4 linked regions of the Homo sapiens genome follow. The protein of the gene in region 2 purifies or fractionates together with the protein of the main gene of each other region. This does not show direct contact. Each region holds a gene or a part of one and is shown on either strand. Other genes may lie near its edges.

Region 1 (3,500 bases), on a different chromosome or scaffold from region 2:
AGTCCTCCTGACAGAAAAGGGATGCATCCCACCTCCCTTTTAGGGAAGGGGTCCCCATCCCTAAGTTAAATGGCTTGACCAGGGATTGCCAGCCCTGTGGACAAGCATGGGCTTCTTCCATCTCCTCTGCGCTGGGGAGGGCCTGGCCTTCTGCCCCTTCCCTAGCCTCCTTCTCTGCTGAACTCTCTAGACCCTGGACCAGAGGCAATAGCCAGAGCTGCTTTTGGGGTAAGCAGGCACAGTGCTATGTACGGACATGTCCGCAATCTCACTCAATCCTCCCTGAGGCCCTGTGAGGGTGGTACTGTCACCCCCACTTTAAAGATGAGGAAAGAGGCTTAGAGAAGTGAGGAGGCTTGTCCCAGTCACACAGCTATTCCCTGTGCCTCAAAGTATTTTCACAAGATCTCATCACTGTTACTTGTGAAGACAGGGATGAATGCAGCAGCGAGGATGAATGGTGTGCCATGAGGTGGAAGTCCAGTGCCAGAATAGGAAGGGAGGAGCTGGAGAACCAAAGGAAGGGGCTGAACCATCCCTCTCTCCCAGTACGGCCTCCCAGAAGGGAGGACAAGCCTGTAGATGGATCCTCATGACCCCTCACCCTAGGCCCCTGCAAAATATGAAGTCCGAAGAGATACCTTTCCCTGCTCAGGTTGACACGGGCTTTGCTTTCTGGTCTAGAAGCAGGTGGGAGCAGGTGCAGCCTGACTCTTCACTCCCAGCCACGCAGGTGAAGACACAATAGCCTTTCTGCAGCTCACCACTAGGCCTGGAGCTTGGGGCTTTAAAAGGTCCCCATACATCCTCTGAGCCACCAAAAACTGTTTGCCAAAGAAGGCAGGGGTAGAAATAGCTGCATTCATAGCCTGTGCTCTGTCATCAGGCACGCACAGCTGGGTTCACGGGATCCTGGGGTAGTAACACTGACTCCAGGTCTCACCGAGGCCTGAGCTTGGCCACACCTCTCCCCATGTGTTAGCTCGGTGGTTCCAATCCAACAACGAGACAAATGTCTTAGGTACTTCATAACAGGATTCAAATGGAACGAATTCTTTTTTCCTCCCTTATCACTTTGCACACATGAAATCTATTTTTAATTAGCTTTCAATACATCATCTAAAAAAAAAATCCTACAGCTTGCTCCCACCCCCAAATTGTTCTTAGAGAAAGAAAGATTTGTCTTGTAAGTTTCTTAAGAAAATCTATATGTGCTCAATGCATTTAAATAACACTCATTAAAGTGAATGGCACACAAGCTGGCTTCTCTAGTCACAGATGAGAGACAATCGCTTGACCTACTGCAAATCAAAAAGCATTTCCACGCCACCTTTATTTTTCAACTGGTTAAGTTTTAAATTAAAGTCCCAACGCCCTTTTTGGAAAGGCAGACTAATAGGGCCCCAACTGAAATTTGAGCTCAGTCGATCAGAAGATAATTACAAGAAACAAAATGTGAAATTTTAAATCTGGGCACTAATGAAGTCTAAAAATACCAGTGGCCCATCCCTCTGGCTGGCAAGACCTGTTCTTCATGGAGGGGAATCTCCCCATAATTACTCAACCCCGGGAGAGGCCAGGTTGTCACGTCAAACAATAGCAGGGAATATCGGGGACTTTAACGAGCTAGATCTCAAGGCATTGCATGGTGGATCTTATTATAATGCTGGGCAAGGTTTCAAACAGAGAACAGGAGAAAAGGAAAGTTCTTTTTTTTTTCTAAAGTGGAGTTCTGACTTGTGTTGACGCCATCACGCAGAGCCTCCTGTTCCTGCCTGGAGCCAGCTGTCTGTCATTTAGGAGTGTGAAATCAATTGGGCTTCAGAGATGTAAAATCCCTAGGGGCAAAATTAAAAGTGACCCAGATCCAAGCCCACCTGGTCCTGTCAGGAACACGACTCTCACATGGCAAGTTTCAAAGATTTAGTTTCAAAATTCGGGTTTCTTATTTTAAAAAATATGCAGTTGTTTGACATTAGATCTGACAGACAAATTATAGCTTCAGCAATAAAGGCTTTTAAGATTAGAAATGAAAAGAGAAATTACTTATATATTAAAAAAAGAAAAAACCCACCCAGGCTTGAGTTTGGAGGCATTTGTAGGCGCGTGCGTCACTCTTTCTTCCCTGCAAATATAAGGGGCTCCATCAGCTGATGAGGCCGTAAATAGAGAAGCGAGTTACATGGAATTTCGAGGAAAGAGCCAGTGTGCTGGCAACCTCTGGAAATCAGGGTGATGGACCGGTCAGTTGTTGTCACTGGCTAGAGCTGGTGGGTCCCGCTGGCTCACCAGAAGGCAGGGCTGAGGACACTTTCTAGGCCCACCCCATCCCTGGCCCTCACACCTGGCCCTCGGTCTGCCCAGTGGGGCCTGGTAGAGGGAATCTTAGCAGGGCCCCTATTTCTTGTCCCCTCCCTTCCATTGGCTCAGGACCACCACAGAGGATGGTTCACACCCTCAGGTCCTTGCACAGAGGTTACAGGAACAGCTCTGCAATGGTCATTGACCCAGTGGGCACAGAAGTCCTGCAGGGTCCTGTCCCCGCCACCTGTGTCTTTCTGATCTCATGGGCTCAGGGCTGACAATGTTTAGCTGCCTGCACCCAGCAGCTTTGGTGGGGCAGATCCCAGCTTGGTGCTGAGCCCCAGACTAGGGACTCCAGTCCTTTCTCAGCTAGTTACCTTTTTGCACAAAACAGCTCCTTTTCCTAGATGCGTGCCTGGAACGTGGCAAGCCAGCAAGATCTTGCATTAGCCCAGAGGGGCTATGTGGGGACAGAATATGCCACCCGGTGCCTTGGGCTTTGGCATAGCCTTGGAAGTAGGATGCCCGCTGCCCAGTTGTCAGAGTTGGTAACTCATGAACTTGAACTGGGAGTAAGTTTCTTTCTTTCTTTTTTTTTTTTTAAAGGGAGACAGAGCTTAACCAAAACAATGCAAAGAAAAAATCAATTTAGTCATTTTTTTAAAAAAGATCTTAAAGCAAGAGTTTACCAGAATTTAGATGTAATTTTCTACAATTTTGTCATTTAAAACTAGTGCTGATTTCCAAAACAAAGGCAGTTAGGGCTCAGTCAGATTGGGAATTAAACCCAACAGAGATCCAGACATGAGCTTTATTGTTGGGATGCTTGACAAGGCATGAAAATTGCTTGAAATGACAAAGGAAGAGACTTGGGAGAGAAGACAGGAGAGTGGCTAGTGGGGTTCCTTGCTCTGCCGAAAGGCAGAGCACCCCGAAATGCCATCTCAAGGGGTTTTATGTGGGAAGGCTGGGAAGTTGTGCCCAGAGATGCATACTTTCTGGGACCGTCTAGTGTCCTCTTTCAAAAGAGATGTAGACACCCCGTTGGGCCAGACTGTTTGCCATGGACCCTTATGCCCCCACTGCCTGTACCTGGCAGTGGCCCAGCAGCCTTCCCCACTGCATCCAGCAGGAGCAGGGACTTGGCTTGTCTGGGGCACTAAGGGCTAGGCAAACCTATAGCAGAGGAATCCAGC
Region 2 (3,500 bases):
CGGAAGCTCCCCTGATGACCTGATCTCTGTCTAGTCTGGCCATATTTCTCACCTATGCTAATATGCTAATATAGAGCTGGATGTGATAAAACTAAGTCCAGAAAGATAAACTGTTTCCCCATGGACTTGGGGAGTACAAAGCTTCTACCATCTCTGTGATTCTCTGGGGGGATAGGTGTGTATGTGTTTAGAGGTGGAGGGCGGAAACCTCAGTTACCAGCCCCTTCCATAGCCAGGTGACACTGAGCTACAGAGGGCTGACCTGTCAAGGTCACAGGACAGGTCAGGGAAGAAATGGCCCGGGCCTTCCAGAGCCTGGTTCCTGACTGGTTCCAGGAGGCCTCCCTGCCAACAGAGCATTTCTTTCTATGTGGCAGGTGGGTAGTTCTCAAAAAGACCCCGGGGCCACTGGAGACTGGAAAATGAGCCCTCAGAGGAGTGTTGGCAGAGACTTTGCCATAGGGGGTGGGGCTTAACCAAGGTGCATGCCCAGCCCCTACCTCCTCCTGCTGTGGCTGGCTGGGCACCAGGCCAACCACCCCCTGACCCCTCATGACTCACCCAGCTCCTAAGTGCCCCTGGGCACCCAGTTCTTTGTGGCATGGGCCGGTGCAAGTTTCTATATGAGAGCCAGAGAGACAGGGAGGGAGGCCCGGGCTCCTGGCCTTTTGGGAAAAGATGCCCGTCTCAGACCAGCAAAAGGAGGCAGCTGCTTTAGGAGCCCGGGAAAATGCCATCACTGATAGTATTATTATTATTTTCCCATTTTCCCTTTGTGTTTTTAAAATGAAAAGTTCAGATCCATGGGGTAGGGTAGAGTGGGCCTGGAGGGAGAAGGACTGGAGGGCTGGTGGGCTGGAGCCGACAGGGACCAGCCTAGTTGTTGGCTTCGGACATGGAGGCCACGTGGTTGAGGCCGGCGAGCCCAGGGAGGCCGGCCAGGCCGGCGGCCCAAGGGTCGGGCAGCGGGAAGTAGGGCCGCGCCGCCGCCACGTTCTCGGCCAGCGCGAAGGCCAGGAGGCCCCCCGCGTTCCTCTCAGCCTCCAGCTGCGCGCGCCCGAACAGCTTCATCTGTGTCTCCTCGAACTGCCGCTCCAGCTCTTGCAGGCTCAGGGCGCCCTTGGGCGCTGCCAGGAAGTGCTTGGCGGGGCTGGGGCCCGGGAGGCACACAGCTGCGCCGCCCAGGTGGCCGCCCACCTCGCCCAGCGCAGGGGGCATCACGAAGGCCGCCTTGTCGGGGGCCGGGCCGCCGGGCCCGAAGAGCAGGCTGGCGGCCCTCCACGCAGCAGGCTTGCGGCCGCGTCGGGGCCGTGCCATGCGGCAGCTCTGGCGCTTGATGTGGCGGTGCAGGTGGTCAGAGCGCGTGAAGCTCTTGTAGCAGAACTCGCACTGGTAGGGCCGCACGCCCGTGTGGATGCGCATGTGGTTCTTGAGGTCGTAGTTGTGCACGAACTTGGCGTTGCAGTGGATGCACAGGTAGGGCCGCTCCCCTGTGTGCTTCCGCATGTGGATTTTCAGCTTGTCCTGCCTGCAATGCAGAGACTGGGGGTCAGTCCCGCAGGGAACACCAGGAGCCATTCCTAACCTTTTGCTCCCCCTTTCTCCAGAACCAGCCGAGGCTCCCTACTGCCATGGAGTCAAACCCCAGAAATAGGTCTCATGCTAGATCTACCCTCAACTGCTGCCCCACCTTAGACAGGTATGGTTACTCACCTGGATTAAAGGGATGCGGAAAAAGCAGTGTCCTGAAAGCCCCACTCCCCCAAACTCCTTTTATACCCGAGCTCAGAGTCATGAAACTCCCACTCTATTAGGGGTTTATCTCACATACTGGGAAGATACTTCGCCAGAAGTCAGCATTTCTGACCTTAGTCCTCGGATAGTGCAGCGACTTCTGCTGATACTGGACTGCACTTTAATCTCATACCCACTCTCTCCAGGCAACCTTATGCTTTCCCTCCAGTTCATCTATATGCTTTGGCCCAAAGTCCCTGGTCCCATCCCAGCCCCCGGGCTATTGAGATCTGTCTGTGTTTGGCACTAATCTGGGAGGCTATAGAAGCTTGGGCACACCTTGTTCAAACCTCCTGCATGGTGGTTTCTTATCCTAAGCCTTGGGCTCTCCTCTTTGTCTGTAGACAATTTCAGGGTTTACAAAAGAGCCAGGTGCGAAAAGAATGCAGCCTAATCTAGGGCAAAACTTTGCAGGGTTTAAGTGGTATTATTCACAGGTAAGGTATGGTGTAGGGTGGGGGCGCCTGCACCTATTGGGGGTCTGGGAGCCTCTGCGCCAGCTGCAGACCCACCACCAACTTGCTGGTGACTTCAGGCAAGTTACTTAACCTCACTGCCCAGAGCTGAACCTGGTGCCAGACATCAATTCTCATTGTCCAGGGCTCATGGAAAGAACCTGGGTCTGTGTGAGCTAGATTCCACACACCTCCTGGTGGTCTTGACAGGAAAACTGATATCAGGGGGTTGTTTTCATAAACACTGAGCATTGGGTAAACCAGCTTAAGGTGGCTGAGGTATAGGCAGCTGGGCTGCAAGAATTCCTCTTGGGATAATTCGCAGCCTTCCCCAGTGGGGCCATAGGGGCCAGGAAGCTCTGTGTCTAGTCTCCTACTTCCTCCCTGCAGGTGTGGCTTGGGTGGAGCATCTGCCTATAATTTCAGGCTCTGCTTTGAGGTTAGAACAGATGTGGAGTCCAGGTGTCCTCCCTAAGATGGCCAGATTTAAACCCTGTTTAACGTAATCCTAGGACAGCAGGTGCAGGTCCTAGGCTCCTGGTGTCTCCTGGCCACTAGAGGTCTCACCAGCTCTCATTTTCAAAATGGTTCTCCAGGGGCAGAGCAGGAGAGAAAAGGACATTCCCATGAATACTGGCAGGCACTGTGAGAGGAGGATCAGAGAGGACAGATCCAGTCCTCCCACCTGTGCTCACAGGAAGGCTGGAGAGCCCCTGGGAGTGAGGAGAAGGGAAGTGGGGTCACCCTCTTCCCCTCCACATCCCACTGCTCCTGCCTTTTTTCAAACCCACCAGCCACCCCTAGGCTACATAGTACTCTGCTGTGATATCCCACCCCCTACCAGCATGCTGTGGTCTCTGTAACCCAGATTTCACCTAGATGATTGGATTTTTGAGGAGGAAGGGACTTCAGAGACCATTTAGGCCAGTGGGTCTCAAACTTAAGGATGCATTCGAACCATAATCAGGACTCAATAAAACAGTGCTGGGCCCTACTCCCAGAGAGTCTGATCAGTAGGTCTGGGATAGGGGAGAGGGACAAAGGATTTGCATTTCTAACCAGTTGCCACATGCTGGTGGTGGTGGTGGTCCGTGGACCCCACACTGAGAACCACCGGTCTAGGCAAAGCCTCCACTATGTAGGTGGGCAAACAGACCCAGCTGGGGAACTTGCCAAACTCACCCAGAGGGTCATGGCAGGCCCGGGAGTCAAGGCCTCTTTTCTCACCACAGCACTGTGACTGTGAAAATG
Region 3 (3,500 bases), on a different chromosome or scaffold from region 2:
CTCCAAGGGGGGTGGGAAAAAAAGGAATGGATAGATAACCTGATGTGACTGGGAGTGCTTGTAATTTACCAGTCCTATCCAAGTGTGCAGATAGGTCATTAAAAAAAACAAGAAGTTTTTAAATGGATCAATGATTAACTCCAGGAAAAAAAAAAAAGGTTGTTTACTCACAGGACACAATATGTAGTTCATTCGTAGACAATATTTACACAGTCATAAAATATGTACACTAAACCGAATGTGAGATATTGGGAGGATGAGAGAAAGCAACTTTGCATGGGGGAAGAGGGTAGAGGAGATGAGGTATAATAAAGTTAAATCTTCACTTTCCTTATTAATCTAGAAATACAGTCTGAAATAGGTTATCTCAAAAAATAGTAATTTGGCATGTTATTTAGAAGTATAGAAGTTAACCAACTTGGTGGTTCACGCCTGTAATCCCAGCGCTTTGGGAGACCGAGGTAGGTGGGTCCCTTGAGCCCCCAGGAGTTCAAGACCAGCCTGGGCAACATGGGGCAAAACCCCATCTCTTACTAAAAATACAAAAACAATTAGCCAGGCATGGTGGTATGTGCCTGCAGTCCCAGCTACTTGGGAGGCTGAGGGGGATCACTTGAGCCCGGAGTCAGAACTTGCAGTGAGCAGAGATCACGTCACTGCACTCTAATCTGGGAGACAGAGTGAGACCCTGTCAAAAAAAAAAAAAGAAAAAAGAAATATGGAAGTCAATAGTGGAAGAAACAGCTGAAATAATTGAAAGTGGTTGCCTCTGAGGAGTGGGTAATTGATGGGGAAAAGGATGGGACAGGGGACTGCTGTTTTGTTGTTGTTTTTGTTTCTTTTTACCTATAAGCCTTATGGAACTATAGGCTGGGTGTGGTAGCTCATGGCTGTAATCCTAACCCTTTGGGAGACTGAGGCGGGCAGATTGTTTGAGCTCAGGAGTTCGAGACCACCTTAGGCAACATGGCAAAACCCCATCTCAACTAAAAATGCAAAAAGTAGCCGGCCATGGTGGCGAGTGCCTGCCATGTAGTCCCAGTGTACTTGGGAGGCTAAGGTGGGAAGACTGCTTCAGCCCAGGGGGCAGAGGTTATAGAGAGCAAAGATCGCTGCACTGCACTGCAACCTGGGCGACAGAGCAAGTCTCTGTCTCAAATAAATAAATACATAAAAATGTATACACATATATTTATAAAATTAAATTTAAAAAAGGTAGATCTATGATATTCTAAAGGGATATACCTGAGATCTTTGCAAATCTCCAAAATTCACAAATACCATCATGGCATTTCATAAGAAGGCAGCATGGGTGCCAAGTGGCTCCCCAGGCCCAACCACTTGCTCTGATGTCCCAGCCATACAGCCTTACAGGCCAAAGTTGGTCAGGATCCTGGGAAATAACTGAAATGGCAAACTAAGTCCACAAAATTCAAGGGTCTACTGTGGCGACTGAGACTATTATGCTATTCAGCTATACTTGGAAAGTTAACTATCGGAAAAGCAAATGCCTCAAAGCAGCAGACACATGTTGGCCATATTGTTTTGCCTATGTTTGTTGAGCTTTGATGAACTTTCAACAACAAAATAGATCACACATACTTTCCCACTGAGGTGTCTGTTCTTTGCTATCATGTATGAGAGATCAGATCTCCAAAGATGCAGCCACTGCCACATCCCTTCTTGCTTTACCAAGCTTTCCGGCAGAAAGCAGAGAGCCAGCAGTGGCAGGCAGCAGCACACACATCCCGGGTCCCCACCCGACTCACTCAGGGCCCACAGAGCTTAAGGCTTTGGGGAGATTAAACAAAATGCAATTACTGCTCATTAAGTCTATAGCCCTGCCTTAGAAAGTACACTCATATATGAATAAGTGCCAAGTTCCAGAGGGGTAATTATTTTGTAGCAGTAACAGGGAAGAAACATTCTGGTTTGAGGAATAAAATAAACAGGGAATTGTGGTGGGAAGTTGTACAAGACTCAGAGTTGCTCTTCTAAGCGACCATGGAAGCTTGGGCTCAACAGGCAAAAACAAGGAACACTAGACACTCAGCGTTACTGCTTTCTCTCCTACAGTGGGGAATAGACCCAGTGTATTAGTCTGTTTTCAACTGCTATAAAGAAATACCCAAGACTGGGTGATTTATAAAGGAAAGAGGTTTAATTGACTCACAGTTCTGCATGGCTAAGGTGGCCTCAGGAAACTTACAATCATGGTGGAAGGCAAAGGGAAAGCAAGGACCTTCTTCACATGGTGGCAGAAGAGTGTGAGTGTGTGAAGGAGAAACTGTCACTTATAAAACCACCAGATGTTGTGAGAACTCACTATCAGGAGAACAGCATGGGGGAAACCACCCCCAGGATCCAATCACCTCCTTCCCTTCATGTGGGGATTCAATTTGAGATGAGATTTGGGTTGGGACAGAGCCAAGCCATATCACCCAGCATTGTAGTAACAGTCTCACTGGTGACAGTAACAGAGGTAATGGTAGTGGTAATAAAATATATATTTTTTACTGTGCTTTTTTTTTGAGACAGGGTTTCACCCTGTTGCCCAGGCTAGAGTACAGTGGCATGATCATAGCTCACTGCAGCTTTGAACTCCTGGCTTCAAGCAATCCTCCTGCCAGCCTGGGATTACAGGTATAATAACAGTAATTACTGAGAGCCTGACAGTCATTATGCTAAGTACTTTTAATTTACATTATTTCTAATCTTCAAAACAACAGTGGCAGGTGGGAATTATTTTCCTGAGTTAATAGGTGAGGGGGGCCATAAAAGACTGACTTCACAAATAAATAGTATTTCAACTAGGCATACTGATTTAAAAGGGCACTAATATTCTGCTCAATGCTTCTTTTTTTTTTTTTTTAGATAAGCAAAAGAACTTATATGAGAAAAATGGCTTACTTAAAAATTACGGGGCTGGGCATGGTGGCTCATATCTGTAATTCCCAGTACTTTGGAAGGCCAAGATGGGAAGATTACCTGAGCCTAGGAGTTGGAGAACAGCCTAGGCAATATGGCAAGCCCTCATCTCTAAAATAAATAAATAAACAATTTTTTTAAATTGTGGTCCCAGAAACACCATTTTGAGGAAATTTTCCAAGAGCCAGGGGATCTTTGAAAAGAGGCTACTGAGGTAGCTAAACACAACCCCAACAAAGATAAAAGGTTTAAGTAATACTGGAAGACAGGCAAACAGTACCTACAATCTTTTAACTTCCCATCAGCCTAGAGATCCTCAGCTCTACACTAGATCCCCCATCACAGGCCTTGAGACCAACTCAAGTTCTCCACATTCCTCTCAAAACACTTTAGGGATGCTTGGAACTTCCTGTTATACCTTGTTGGCAGACCATCTTCAGGCAATACAGAGGCTAATGTCTGCATCATAACTATGATTCCACCTTGGGAAAGTGGGAATCACAATTTGCAGACTATCCAAATGTGAAGGGGGGAAGGGGTGCTCAGAAGATTCTGGGGAGCTGCAAATGACA
Region 4 (3,500 bases), on a different chromosome or scaffold from region 2:
GAAGGAAAAAAACATGATCTGAGCCTTGGAAGAAATAAAAATATTTTTCAGGATCTCACAATTTTTTTGTTTTTTTGAGAAAGGGTATCAATCTGTAACCCAGGCTAGAGTGCAGTGGTGTGATCTCGGCTCACTGTAGCTGCAACCTCCCAGGCTCAAAATATCCACCTACTTCAGCCTCCCAAGTAGCTGGGACTACAGGCACACACCACTACACCTGCCTAATTTTTTATTTTTCATAGAGACGGTTTCACCATGCTGCCCAGCTGGTCTCTAATTTCTGGGCTCAAGGGATCTGCCTATCTCAGTCTTCCAAAGTGCTGGGACTATTGGTATGAGCCACCACGCCTGGCTTGACAGCTTTCATGATGTAATTATTTAATTTAGCCTTACAGTGAACCTGTAAGGCTAAATTTTTTTTTTTTTTTTTTTGAGACGGAGTCTTGCTTTGTCGCCAGGCTGGAGTACAGTGGCGCGATCTTGGCTCACTGCAACCTCCAACTCCCTGGTTCAAGCGATTTTCCTGCCTCAGCCTCCCAAGTAGCTGGGATTACAGGCACGTGCCACCACACCCAGCTAATTTTTGTATTTTTAGTAGAGTTGGGGTTTCACCATGTTGGCCAGGCTGGTCTCGAACGCCTGACCTGGTGATCTGCCTGCCTCAGCCTCCCAAAGTGCTGGGATTACAGGCGTGAGCCACCACGCCCGGCCTGGTTAGTCTTTATTTACATACCCTTAGCTTTCTCTCATTTGAGTTAATATAATTTTTCCAAGTCCCACTGCCTAGCCCACAAGACCATCTTTGTTCTTTCCATGTATGTCTCCATGAAGAGAACACTACCTTCTCAAAAGAACAAGGAATACATATTTGTGCTGTGAAGATTCCACAATGAGGTTCTGGTAAAGTACACTTTGTGACAGAACAGATCTGTGGTAGGACCTTGTATGACTAGCTTCAATTCAGTTAAACATTTACTGAATCTCCACCATGTAGGCACTGTGCCTCCTTACAGAGATATAAAGATATTAAAGAGAGAGTTTCTGTCTTCAAGGACATTATACATTTAGAAAGGGATACAAATGTAAAATAAACACAATACAGTTTAATATGTGCAACAGTGGGAAGTGTTCACATGACAGAAGAGTACAGAGGTCAAGAGTGATATCTAGGCCGGGTGCGGTGGCTCACACCTGTAATCCTAGCACTTTGGGAGGCCAAGGCAGGCAGATCATTTGAGGTCAGGAGTTTGAAACCAGCGGGACCAACGTGGTGAAACCCTGTCACTACTAAAAATACAAAAACGACCCAGGCGTGGTGATGGGCGCCTGTAATCCCAGCTACTTGGGAGGCTGAGGCAGGAGAATCGCTTGAATCTGGGAGGTGGAAATTGCAGTGAGCCGAGATCGTGCCATTGCACTCCAGCCTGGGTGACAAGAGTGAAACTCCATCTCAAAAAATAAAAAATAAAGTAAAATGTAGATACATTTATCCATTGGTGACAGGGGCAGCATGAGAGGATGAAATAGGATAAAAAGTTAAGGTAGCTTGTTGAGAAACAAAGCTAGGGAGATGAGAGTCAGAAAATGGTTTGATTAGAATGCCAAACATCTGAAATCCCTATTGAGAGCAACAGCAAATGGACTGAAGATCGATATTGAAAGCCCAAGTGGGGTTGGATATCATAATTCTGTAGATGCCAGTATACACGGTTGTGTAATATTCTTCAGCAGCACTCAGCTTCCAAAATATAAATTTGGATTTGGCAGCCAGGACCAAAATCTGAGGAAGGATGATGTTGGTATGAAAATAAGCAGAACATTTGACTGTGAGGCCCAGGCTAGCTAGAGAAGGAAATAAATCCCATTGTGGGAGGATAAACGGGGAGAAAGTAAAAATGTAAAGGAATGGCAATGAACTAATTAAGACTTATTTTAAATACAGCCCAGGACATACAGTGCTAAGGAACAGAGTTCCATCTCCCACAAACTTAATGCCTAAGAACAATCAAGCTGTTTTAGTAACTGAGATTTTTGATGTCTAAGTAACAAACTCACCAAACAGTCACGCTGCAGGGTCTTACAGAGAGCGTTGTACATGTCAGCATCCAAAAAAAGACCATCAGGGATGTCTTGTAAGAAGTCTAGGTCTTTAAATGTGGGAAGAGGCTTCTCTCGCTCTTTCTGGGAAGCCCGCCGTTTGTAGGTTGAGCCTTTGAGGTCATATTTGATATGCATTTTTACCGATCTTGGTAAAAGATTGTTCATCACCACAATCCGAATGTTCTTGCCACCTGCCTGCACACAGTACAGTCCATAGAATTTAGGCAGCAAAGTCCGAGGGTTCTGGTTGAGGTTCTGAGAACACAAAAGGAAACAGAAGTAGGAGAACAACTTAGCTGATTTTCAGTGAAACTCACCAGTAAAAGTTACCACCCATCCTCCCTTTATCTCCTATATGAGATTTAGACACAATGTGTCCATAAACCTACATCATATATGCTTTACATTTCCCTATGCATCTATTTCAATGGTAAGTTCACCATCAAGCTGTGCCACAGACTCTCCAATACAGAAATCAGCCAGGATACCAATATAAGATGGATATATTTCTTCAGAGAGATTTAAGAGAAGACGACACTCTCTGCCCTGGGTATAGTATATTCTTGGGGATGGTAAGGCAGGTAAGGAGAGTTACCTAACTTCTCCAGAACCTCCAATAGCAATCAGAGTAAGGCTGCAGAGAGTATTACCAAGGGAAATAACCTACCTCATTCCCCAAACTAGAAGCTGAACTAAGAACAGAAGACGAAAATAGCCAGGTGCAGTGGCTCATGCCTGTAACCCCAGCACTTTGGGAGGCCAAACAGGAGGATCACTTGAGCTCAGGAATTTGAGACCAGCCTGGGTAACATAGCAAGACCTCATCTCTACTAAAAATTTATAAAAATTAGGCCGGGCACGGTGGCTCACGCCTGTAATCCCAGCACTTTGGGAGGCCAAGGCAGGCGGATCATGAGGTCAGGAGTTCAAGACCAGCCTGACCAACATGGTGAAACTCCATCTCTACTAAAAAATAAAAAATTAGCTTGGCATGGTGGCGCATGCCTGTAATCCCAGCTACTCAGGAGGCTGAGGCAGGAGAATTGCTTGAACCTGGGAGGCGGAGGTTGCAGTGAGCCGAGATTGTGCAACTGTACTCCAGCTTGGACAACAAAGCGAGACTCCGTCACGAAAAAATAAAAGAAAATAAGTTTATAAAAATTAGCCAGGTGTGGTGGTGCGTGCCTTTAGTCCCAACTACGTGAGAGGCTGAGGTGGGAGGATCACTTGAGCCTGGGAGATCAACAACACTTAAAACAGAACAGATAAACAAAACCCCTTTTACCATAGAGAGGCAAAAGAAATGGGGTGAAAAGCACAAAACTGAACAACATTTTTTTTTTTTTTTTTTTGAGACGGAGTCTTGCTCTGTTACCCAGGCTGGAGTGCAGTGGCAGGAT

The links.
Region 1: the proteins of ZBTB7C (region 2) and KLHL29 purify together in Homo sapiens (affinity purification with mass spectrometry; one large-scale study listed by BioGRID and IntAct). This does not show direct contact.
Region 3: the proteins of ZBTB7C (region 2) and ZBTB5 purify together in Homo sapiens (affinity purification with mass spectrometry; one large-scale study listed by BioGRID and IntAct). This does not show direct contact.
Region 4: the proteins of ZBTB7C (region 2) and PIP5K1A purify together in Homo sapiens (affinity purification with mass spectrometry; one large-scale study listed by BioGRID and IntAct). This does not show direct contact.

Annotation. Positions count from the first base shown.
Region 1 is NC_000002.12:23,643,679-23,647,178, reverse strand, and holds part of KLHL29 (kelch-like protein 29), read right to left. Parts: intron 2,126-3,500; exon of another isoform or gene 2,097-2,125; coding exon of another isoform or gene 2,075-2,096; intron 1-2,074.
Region 2 is NC_000018.10:48,028,384-48,031,883, forward strand, and holds part of ZBTB7C (zinc finger and BTB domain-containing protein 7C), read right to left. Parts: intron 1,529-3,500; coding exon 877-1,528; 3' UTR 1-876. UniProt on the Homo sapiens protein: May be a tumor suppressor gene.
Region 3 is NC_000009.12:37,444,951-37,448,450, forward strand, and holds part of ZBTB5 (zinc finger and BTB domain-containing protein 5), read right to left. Parts: intron 1-3,500. UniProt on the Homo sapiens protein: May be involved in transcriptional regulation.
Region 4 is NC_000001.11:151,233,052-151,236,551, reverse strand, and holds part of PIP5K1A (phosphatidylinositol 4-phosphate 5-kinase type-1 alpha), read right to left. Parts: intron 2,356-3,500; coding exon 2,056-2,355; intron 1-2,055. UniProt on the Homo sapiens protein: Catalyzes the phosphorylation of phosphatidylinositol 4-phosphate (PtdIns(4)P/PI4P) to form phosphatidylinositol 4,5-bisphosphate (PtdIns(4,5)P2/PIP2), a lipid second messenger that regulates several cellular processes such as signal transduction, vesicle trafficking, actin cytoskeleton dynamics, cell adhesion, and cell motility.